3 linked regions of the Homo sapiens genome follow. The protein of the gene in region 1 purifies or fractionates together with the protein of each later gene. This does not show direct contact. Each region holds a gene or a part of one and is shown on either strand. Other genes may lie near its edges. The genes, in order: UNC13D, XRN2 and ANXA5.

Region 1 (3,652 bases):
TTGGGAGGCCTAGGCGGGCGGATCACGAGGTCAGAAGCTCAAGACCAGTGTGGCCAACACAGTGAAACCCCGTCTCTACTAAAAATACAAAAATTAGCCAGGTGTGGTGGCGGGCACCTGTAATCCCAGCTACTTGGAAGGCTGAGGCAGGAAAATTGCTTGAACCCAGGAGGCAGAGGTTGCAGTGAGTTAGATCCTGCCACTGCACTCCTCCAGCCTGGGGGACAGAACTAGACTCCATCTCAAAAAAAAAAAAAAAAAAAAAAAAAGGGATGCGGCTGGGAGGAGGGAAGTTTGGCAGGGATAGGCTACAACTCCATGGCTCTGGGCTGTGGTCACTTACTGCTTCGTCTGGGGGCATCCACCCTCCAGGGCCCTCAACCACGCCCTTTTCTCCATACAGGGAGTTTGAGGACATCACCAATGCGAGCTTTCATCTGGACATGTGGTGAGTGACCTGGCCTGCCCCTAGGGATGGGAAGGGAAGGGATCTGGGGTGAGAGAGGCGGAACCTCCTCCTGGAAGAGGTCGTAGGCACTCTCTCTGCTTCCTTCTCAAACCTCTGTCCTGCCAGGGACCTGGACACTGTGGAGTCTGTCCGACAGAAGCTTGGGGAGCTCACGGATCTGCATGGGCTTCGCAGGTTCGTGTTGCAGGGCTCACAGGGAAGGGGTTGGGGCTCCTTTTGCCCTCCATCCCCCAACATGCACACTGGATGCTGGGGTGCAGGCTCCTTTGGGGTCCAGGTGGCTGCGGCCGGGGGTGGATTCCAGCCTAATCCCTTCCGACCCTTGCTGCGTCCCCCTTATGGGACCCTGCCTGACGCAGGATCTTTAAAGAGGCCCGGAAGGACAAAGGCCAGGACGACTTTCTGGGGAACGTGGTTCTGAGGCTGCAGGTGAGGAGGATGAGGAAAGGGGCCCAGGAGCGAGGCAGAGGGAGGGGGTTGGGAGGGGTTCTGGGGAGAGGCTCTGTGTCCTCACAAAGCTGAGCCTGGGGTCCACCTCCTGTCGCCTCCGCTGCCCCGACTCTATGAGGTTCTGACGCTCACGGGCTGGGCATCCCCGCCTGTCAGGACCTGCGCTGCCGAGAGGACCAGTGGTACCCCCTGGAACCCCGCACTGAGACCTACCCAGACCGAGGCCAGTGCCACCTCCAGTTCCAACTCATCCATAAGCGGGTAGGTCGGGTACTGGGCCAGTGGCCATGCCCAGCTCTTGCGGCGGTCTGCTGGGTTGCGGGGCTGGCTGCACCCAGTGTGAGGCCCTGTCTGCTCACAGAGGCCTCATTGCAGAGAGCCACTTCGGCCAGCCGCTCGCAGCCGAGCTACACCGTGCACCTCCACCTCCTGCAGCAGCTTGTGTCCCACGAGGTCACCCAGCACGAGGTATTGCCCTCCTGGGGCTGGGCGCAGCCGGGGCTGCCCTTCAGGTCCTGACACTCCTCCACCTGCTCCCCTCAGGCGGGAAGCACCTCCTGGGACGGGTCGCTGAGTCCCCAGGCTGCCACCGTCCTCTTTCTGCACGCCACACAGAAGGACCTATCCGACTTCCACCAGTCCATGGCGTGAGTACACAGCCCTGGGCAGAACCCCTGAGCCACCAGCCCCCCACGCCCCCTGCCCTCCTCCAAGCCGGTAGCCCAAAGTGTAATTCTCAGCAGAGTTCCCTTTGGCCCAAAATGTGTGTTTTAAGTTTTGAATCAGTTGCCAATTTTAAAAAGTCTAGAGATTCGGCTGATGCGGTGGCTCACTCCTGTAATCCCAGGACTTTGGGAGGCTGAGGCAGGAGGATCACTTGAGCCCAGGATTTCAAGGCTGCAGTGAGCTATGATCACACCAACACTCCTGCCCGGATCACAGAGTGAGACCTCATTTCCAAAAAATATTAGAAAAAGCTATCTGGAGATTTGACATACCATCCAGATCTCCAGCTTCTCATGAAACACAAGTGCTGGAACTGCAGGGTCATCATTTTGCTGCTTTTTTTTTTTTTTTTTGAAACGGAGTTTCACCCTTGTTGCCCAGGCTGGAGTGGAATGGTGCAATCTTGACTCACTGCATGCAACCTCTGCCTTCCAGGTTCAAGTGATTCTCCTGCCTCAGCCTCCCGAGTAGCTGGGATTACAGGCATGCGCCACCACGCCCAGCTAACTTTGTATTTTTAGTAGAGACGGGGTTTCTCCATGTTGGTCAAGCTGGTCTCCAACTCCCGACCTCAGGTGATCTGCCTGCCTTGGCCTCTCAAAGTGCTGAGATTATAGGCATGAGCCACTGCACCGAGCCATTTTGCTGCTTTTTTTTTTTGAGACAGAGTCTTGCTCTTTCGCCCAGGCCGGAGTGCAGTGGCACGATCTTGGCTCACTGCAGGCTCCGCCTCCTGGGTTCACGCCATTCTCCTGCCTCAGCCTCCCGAGTAGCTGGGACTACAGGCGCCAGCCACCGCGCCCGGCTAATTTTTTGTATTTTTAGTAGAGATGGGGTTTCACCGTGTTAGCCAGGATGGTCTCGATCTCCTGACCTCATGATCCGCCCGCCTTGGCCTCCCAAAGTGCTGGGATTATAGGCGCGTGCCACCGCGCCCAGCCTTTGCTGCTTTTTTGAGTGGACAGAGCGGAGCGATGTGTGTGCCTCTGCCCATCATGGCTGCCATTGGGCCCACTTCAGTTGCTTTCGTCTCCTGAGTCCTGGGCATTTGAATTTGGACCCGGTCCCTAACCCCAGCCCCGCTTCCCAATGCCATAGCCTTCAACTCAGCAAAACTACGCGCTGATAAGGACAAATCTATGTTGAGGGCAACTCACGTCAAGTCCTAGGAATGCCGGGGAGGGCACAGGGGGTCACAGCCATTCCAGTGCATGTGAGTAGGGCAGAGATGGGACATAGCCGGCCGGGCACGGTGGCTCGCGCCTGGAATCCCAGCACTTTGGGAGGCCGAGACAGGCAGATCACTTGAAGTCAGGAGTTTGAGACCAGCCTGGCCAACATGGTGAAATCCTGTCTCTACAAAATATAGAAAAATTAGTCAGGTGTGGGGGCGCATGTCTGTAATCCCAGCTACTCGGGAGGGTGAGGCACGAGAATCACTTGAACCCGGGAGGTGGAGGTTGCAGTGACCTGAGATCACACCACTGCACTCCAGCCTGGGCGACACAGCGAGGCTCTGTCTCAAAAAAAAAAAAAAAGAGATGGGACACAGCCAAGTGCTGGCCAGGGGAGGAACAGGAGCAGGATGCCGACTCAGGCCTGGGCTGTGACTTGGAGTCTGAGTGGGAGGCGGAGGGAGCCCAGGGGAGTGCATTTCTGGGCTGGGGTCAGCTTGTGTACTGCTAGGACCTCAGGCAGGTGGGTGATTCGGAGACAAGGGTGGAATGGTGGTGCGGCTGGAGACTGGAGCAGGCACCAGATGGGGAGGGACCTGGTTTGCCTGCAGGGCCCAAGCACAGTAATGCAGGTGGCTGCAGTGTCCAATAGGGACTTCGGCCTGTCCCCAGGCTGCTCCTCTCCCCCATCCTCTGCCCTCCCACGGGACCTCGTTTGTGTGATATCCCCCCAAACCATCTGAAAGGAAGTTCTCACTGATGCTTGCCACATGTGCACGAAGGCTCAGGTTCATAGATCCTATTTTTCTTTTCTTTTCTTTTTTTTTTTTGA
Region 2 (3,649 bases), on another chromosome or scaffold:
TCTGAAAGCACACAGTATGTGCTGTTTCATTTTCCTCAGTACCACAAATTTTAAGCAGAAATTAAGTAAGTAAGGGGTAAATTTTTCCTAAATTATATACTTGGTTTCTCTATCTTATTGCTCACTTTCCATACTAATAATAATGGCAAATGTTTGTCTGCTTACAAAGTGTTAACACTGTGTTAACATCCTTTAATAAGAATGATTTCATTTATTCCTCCTAGCAGTGCATTGAAATAGATGCTGTTATGTTTACATTTTTGCAAATGAAGAAAGTGAGGCACAGAGAAGTTCAGCAGCTTACCTAAGGTCACTCTTTTGTGCCATTCTTTACCAAGAAACTTTTCACTGGAACAAAACTTACCAGAATATTTACTCTGAGCGTAATATAAAGACGTAGGGACTTCAAAGGAAGTAAAGGATCTGTTTCCACTTCTAAGGCCCCAACAGCTTTCCTCCCCTCTGTTCACATTAAAAGTTTTCCTAAGATCATCATCATTGTCCCTTCCCTTACCCTGCTGTCCATCAGGTTTTGTTCTTATTCTACCCTAGCCAAGTACTAGTATTATTCTGACTTTGTGAACCCAGCAGGTTAGTGACAAGTTTTGTGGGAATGTTTTTTGGTTTAGTTTTAGTCAGATACTTAAAATTATGCCTGAAAGCAAAAGGTAAATGTGAGCATAATAGAGTTCTATCATAAAAGTCTTACATCACAGACATTTAAGAAAGATACCATTTTGTTCCAGAACCAGGTTTTACCAGTTCTTAGTTCAGTATGTTTCCACGACGCTACTGTTTGTTGAGAATCCTATTAAGAGAATTTTGAGTGTCTTTTTTTTATTACATTGCATTTCTTGAATAATTTCCTACTTTAAGATGGTATGTATAATCCATATATCCAGTAGATTTAAAAATACAACAGGAACATCCTCCCAACACAGACACAGCCTAGAGTTAATAGATACCCAGCATTGGAGTTCCCTTTGTCACTTGAGTTTTGCCACATTGTTTGGGTTCTTCTTGTCAATGGAGGCCTCTTTTTCAGTCATTTGCAAGGCAGCCATTTAGTTTTTTACCTATGAGTGTTAAGCTCAATCATGAAAAATCTTTTAAATAAAACTCCGATTTTACCATATGCATACATTTAAAATATTCAAATTGGTAGTAGTTCACATCTCCAGTAACTTTCCAAAACAATTTGGAAACTTAAAAAAATTGTTGCTATCTACGATGCCAAATGGCTCAAATAAGTTGCCTTATTTATTAACTTCTTTTATTGATTTATTGATTGAGACAAGGTCTCACTCTGTCACCCAGGCTGGAGTGTAATGTCATGATCTTGGCTCACTGCAGCTTCTGCCATCCAGGTTCAAGTGATTCTGATGCTTCAGCCTTCCAAGTAGCTGGGACTACAGGCTCCCACACCACCATGCCTGGCTGATTTTTGTATTTTTAGTAGAGACGGGGTTTTCCCATGTTGCCTAGGCTGGTCTCAAACTCCTGGGCTGAAGTGATCTGCCTGCCTCGGCCTCCTGGAGTGCCGGGATTACAGGCTGAGTTACTGTGCCTGGCCTAATTGCTAATTTTTAGAATTTAGGATATGTCAGTTTCTGTGCTTCTATCCCAGATTTTAAAACATAATTTCCTAGGCAAATTTTTAGTTTTGTAAGTATTTGCAAAATATATAATTAGTCTAGACATGTGATAAACTTGTTGAAAATAAAGGCCTTTCTGTCATAAAAGTCAGAAGAAGGTAGTACATGACATCCTTGCTTTGTTCTTCTGTTTAATTTTAATTATTGATGATTTTTTTCATAAAAATTATATTTGTCAAAAACATTATAAGTAATCAATTCAAACAAAAAGAACTTTGCGTTTTTAAACTGTGGCTTTGTTCTTAACCTGTTTTTGGAACATAAAATAGTTTTGAATTGCATTTATAATGTATATTATTTATGCCAGCAGATCTTCCTAAAACTCAATTGAATTTTATTATTGTAAGACTCAAAAGAAAAACTGATCACAGTTAAGATGTGAATTGTGTTTTTAGCCCGTGGGTTTTGCATTAATTGGCCCAGTTTTGATGAGACTTTGGTTACAGCACAAACCTTAGTTTAGCCCTTCACTCCTGCAGAGACTGGAAGAGACCATTCCTATCTCTGCACACGGAGCTCTTCTTGCTAAAACAGATGGAGGCATTCTTGCTAAAATATATTTGTGCTAGTAATTGTCCTGAAAAATAATTAAAAGCCCTAGCCATATGCATTTTCTTTCTGAGATAAAAACTTATTTTTAATTGTATTCTGAATTACTTATAACACATTGTTATTAGAGCTCTGGTTTCAGCTACCAACTGTAAAGAAAAACTTTAGCCTTTCTAGAGTTCTTTAGAGAGCAGTTCATTTCTTCGAATCATCACACAAAAATAATTATCTCTGGTGTTGTTTTAATAAAAAGAAGGCAAGCTCCAAGTGAAGGGAGGAGAGTGGGGGTAGAGAGGATGGATTCAGGCTTGAATAGCTGTGAGAAGAATGCTTTACCCAATGAGCCCAGCGCCGGGCTTTTTTCCCCTAAGACCTCGGAAGTGAAATTCTTATGCTGATATGGTTATAACTGATTACCAGCTAGTCAGCACTTCAGTGAATTTAAAGTTTTATTGAATTCCTCCTAACATGGTCAGTGGCCCCAAAGCTTCTGATGTTCAAGTATACTGGAGCATTTGCCTCTGTTTATTCTTTGTAGTGCCTTCCATAAAATAGAAGTTATGGAAAGTGCCTTAAGGAGAAAGTAAAGTCTTAAATGGTGATTGCCTTTAGAAGGTATATCCTTGCTACATTGTTTATGTGACAGTTTTTAATTAAGTTATGATTTAGTACATTATACCTGTTGCTTTGCATCTGCAAAGTTAAAATAGTCACTTGAAGACAATTAAAACATTTCTTTCGACTAGTAATCTGCGACAGCAAACTGGGTTATAATAGCCGTTGAATCTGTGTTCCCATGTAAACTGTACACCAAATGCCAGTCAGCCCATGCCAATTAGTGCTCATGTTGCTAGGTCACCGTGGTCAATTGAAAGCTGCATCAATAGAACTTGAAAAGGTTTCCTCCCAATCAGACCTTCTGACATATTGAACAGAATAATGGATGGGAAAAAACAGCCAAGTCTCCTACCCTGGATTCAAAATACTCAGCAGTAAGAATTCATTTGCAACCTGCAATTAAGTAGAAAGAATGGATCCAAGAACGAGTCTGGACATTTTTGAAAATAAAGCCTCATTCTCCTGTCTTGTACATGTTTACTCTTTGGATAGCATCTTAAATGTAGCCATCTTGGTGATCTTGGGTCTACATCTTTAAGTGACTAAAAAGGAAATTTCCCAATTGAAAATGAACAAAATAACTTTTAAAAGTCAGAACTTCTCAGTTGAGTTTAAACATCCATTGTAATAAATGCTGATGCTTCATGAAACATGTTAGATTATACTGGATATAAGGGACACAAAGGCCATTCTGATACTCTGTATCCCATATGATAAATCCAGGTAAATTGGATTGTACTAAAATTTGGAGATGATACCTGCCGATTTTAGGCTTTGTGCTGTATAATAGGTGTGGCTTCTGATGTAAAACTGGTACTTTCCTACAG
Region 3 (3,652 bases), on another chromosome or scaffold:
TGGGTCCAAGCAACAAAGCACGGCAATGGTGCAAGGTTACATGTTCCCAAAATGTCTGCCATAACCTCCAATCTTTCAGAAGCAACAGTATGGGTCAGGAGAAAGTTATGACTACCTCACTGTTGATACATCCATGTATAGACTGGGAAAGGATTTAACTGGAAGCTAAGTTGTCTGCCTTTTCTGTTTTGCTTGTTCTATAGCTGTTCAATAGCACATGAGTAAAAGTACACTTCATATTTTCTCTTTACAACTGAGATTTAACCAAGGCTAGCTATAAAATGTTTTCATATTTCCAAAGATCACAATAAATTTTTAAAAGATTGTGGGTATAGCACAGTGCCTGGCATATAGAAGCACTCAATAAGTAGTGGTTGAATAGTTTGAGTGCCCATACTTCCTTTTTGACATGGGGAAAAAATATGCTTTCTTGTGCACGTATAGCTGCCTAAAAAAATAAGCTTATATACAAACATCAACGTTAACTCTGAATCCACTTATTGACGTGAGAATAATTTATTAAAACCCAAAGAATCAACCTTTACAATGACTGTACTATCCTTTTATTCATTTCAAACTAAGTCTACATATTAAAGCAAGATGAATGCAATTTGCTGAGGCTGCTACTTGCAGTTGGCCTTATACCCACAAGCAGCAATCCAAATAAAGACAGGAAGTGATAATAACAGGCTTGAATATAGAAGTTTTGATCACAGTATATTTAAAAATGTAGATTATGGTGGTAAAGATCTATTTTTTATTATATTTCTGGAGAATAAGAAAAAAATGAGACTCATGTATCTTTATGCTCAATTTTAAAATTAATTATTTTAAAGATAAAAATGAATAATATCAATTCTGGCCATGTGAACATGCTCTTAAAACCTGAAAAGACAGTAACTCTGAAAGTCATGCATGCATCTAAACTTTAGAACTATATCATGATGACACAGACCTTTCTTAAAATAACTTTTAAAATTTAATTACAAAAACAACGCAAGTTCATTGAGAAATTTTATAAAACTAAGAAAGAACAAAAATAAGAAAATAGAAGTTGCAGGCTAGGCATAGTGGCTCATGCCTGTAATCCCAGCATTTTGGGACGCTGAGGCAGGTGGATCGCTTGAGCCCAGGAGTTCAAGACCAGCCTGGGCAACCTGTCAAAACCTGTCTCTACTAAAAATACAAAACTTATCCAGGCACGGTGGCAGATGCCTGTAATCCCAGCTACCCGGGAGGCTGTGGCAAGAGAATTGTTTGAACCCAGGAGGCAGAGGTTGCAGTGAGCCTAGATCATGGCACTGCACTCCAGCCTGGGCACGAAGGAAAGGAAAGGGGAAGAGGGAGGGGAGGGGAGGGGAGGGAGAGGGGCGGAAAGGAGAAGGGAGGGGAGGGAGAGGGGAGGGGAGGGAGAGGGGATAGGAAGGAGAAGGGAGGGGAAGGAAAGGGGAGGGTAAGGAAATGGGAGGGGAAGGAAAGGTGAAGGAAAGAAAAGGAAAAAGGAGAAAGGGGAAAGAGAAAGGAAAGAAAAGAAAAGTTGCTATTTAATATCAATTTCCTGAGGGTGCTAGTTACTACTTCTGGTATGTTTCTACATGTAGATAAAATATACAAATACATTAACACCTAAATGGGTAAAGGACTCATCTTGTACAATATCACAGACATTGATGCACACACTTCTTATCAACTGTTTTAAATGTCTAGAAATGTTCTCTAGTAGGTACAGGAGTTAAGCCTGTTATATGGGAATAATTGGTGAGATGTCAGTTATTTTTACCACAATGTTTTAATTTTCTTGGGAGAATTATGTTTGGGATCAATATCTACTGTAAAACTATTATTAAGTAATCATATGCAATAATAATGATGGCTTCTTCATGTAAAACAATGATATTTAACAGTTTTGTTTTAATCTAAGTATCCTTTCTCCTAAATGAGGATGCCCAATATTCATGGATCCATCTGGATGAGGGACCCTTACACCCCTTCCCTAAGCTTTACGGTTCAGCCTGAGTACAGTTTCATAAGCCCTGGTTCAGTGCAAAGGATGAGTCTTTGGAGTCAAAACAGATGTGGTCTATCTGCAAGATCTCAGATGAACTACTTAATCTCCTCTTCAGCCTCAGTGTATATAGTCATTAACGGAGATTATATAACTAAGATAATGCACTGAACAGTGTCAGGTAATCAGTAGCAAATGCCCAGTAAAAGTAAAAAGTGCCTGATTACTTCTCCTTCTCCCTCTTTCCTCTAAGAGTTCAACTCTCCCTCCAGAGAAAGAATAAAACAAGGATTTACTGGGGAAGAAGGTAAATCTGTTTTAATGCATTAAAAGTATTAAATCAATTTAACACATTAAAAATGTTAAAAAGTGGATTATCTACAAAACGTTCAGTTCCCAAGTGAATGACTCACTATGGCTTATCAAACCTCTCAAATAATAGAAATCTTCTTAGTGCCAGGTATCAGTAGAGACAAAAATGCAAAAGCTTATAAAAGAGCCCTTTAGCTGTCTCAGCTTACTCTCAATTAAGAAATCTCAAATTCTCACTAGTGATAACAGTCCAGCTGCCCTTGCTACGAGGTACAAGTTGGTGTGTTCCTTTTTATAATGCCAAAAGATTATTTGTTTTCAACAGGTTTATTAATTAATAATAATACATTTGAAAGAATCAAAAATAATAGCCAGTGTAACATGTTCTGTATTGCTCCTAGTCACTGGAAGGCTAAGAAAAGCTTGGATTCCATTCAAGGGATACTTTAAAGTAACTCCATAAAGCAGTTTTCACATGTACAGTCTCACATGTACTCTCAGGGTTCTGAATGGTTATATCCACTGCATGACACGTAAGTGTCACCTATACAGCCTCAGTAATCAAAGGACCAAGAATGCAGGCATTACCTGAGAGCATGTTCAAAATCCAGACTCCCAGCCCCTGCCCAGACCCATAGAATCAGAATCTGCAATTAAAGGTCCCAGGTGCGCCACATGCCCATGAAAGTTTGAGCAGCAGTGCTATCCAGTAAGTGCTCCAAGGACAGAAATCAATGAAAACAAGGTTAAAATGTACTGTTTTCCCCTCAGGAGCCTCGTGCTGCAGCAATGCTCTCATTACATCACCAACTATGCTGGGAAATCTGCCCTCTGCCTGTGAATGCAGGCCTCACTGCAGACATCTGAGAGGACTAGAGTTGGTTTCTTACACTGTGACCCTGAAAAGCTCCCAGAACTCCTATCCTACTCTTGACAGTAGGAATGAGAGAATCAGCACTATCTCCTAGCAAAGCCACAACCAATGCTTGGAAAGCAGTAAGATCACCTCAGTACTGAACAAAGCCCCTAACAGGAGTACAACTCTGTAGGGTTGCTCTAGCCCTCTTCCCGAAAGAAGGTGGAATTAAGCTAGATCTATGCTTGAGTTGATATTTAATAAGCCCTTTAATGATAGAGAAAATCAGGGAAGGCACTAATACTCAAGAACACTGAATATCTTACAGTGAAATATTCTTATAGTGAAATATTAATATTCAATAACACTGACTATCTTCTAGTGAAAGAGAAAGAGCTTTGGAGTCAGACAGGCCTCGTTAGGAATTCCAACTCCACTGCTATTCAGTGGAAGCCATGGGTTTGTTTCTTTATCCATAA

Evidence for each region.
Region 2: the proteins of UNC13D (region 1) and XRN2 fractionate together in Homo sapiens (co-fractionation; one large-scale study listed by BioGRID). This does not show direct contact.
Region 3: the proteins of UNC13D (region 1) and ANXA5 fractionate together in Homo sapiens (co-fractionation; one large-scale study listed by BioGRID). This does not show direct contact.

Annotation. Positions count from the first base shown.
Region 1 is NC_000017.11:75,837,753-75,841,404, reverse strand, and holds part of UNC13D (protein unc-13 homolog D), read left to right. Parts: intron 1-403; coding exon 404-448; intron 449-574; coding exon 575-643; intron 644-828; coding exon 829-898; intron 899-1,075; coding exon 1,076-1,180; intron 1,181-1,294; coding exon 1,295-1,387; intron 1,388-1,462; coding exon 1,463-1,566; intron 1,567-3,652. UniProt on the Homo sapiens protein: Plays a role in cytotoxic granule exocytosis in lymphocytes. Required for both granule maturation and granule docking and priming at the immunologic synapse.
Region 2 is NC_000020.11:21,383,219-21,386,867, forward strand, and holds part of XRN2 (5'-3' exoribonuclease 2), read left to right. Parts: intron 1-3,649. UniProt on the Homo sapiens protein: Possesses 5'->3' exoribonuclease activity. May promote the termination of transcription by RNA polymerase II.
Region 3 is NC_000004.12:121,672,841-121,676,492, forward strand, and holds part of ANXA5 (annexin A5), read right to left. Parts: intron 1-3,652. UniProt on the Homo sapiens protein: This protein is an anticoagulant protein that acts as an indirect inhibitor of the thromboplastin-specific complex, which is involved in the blood coagulation cascade.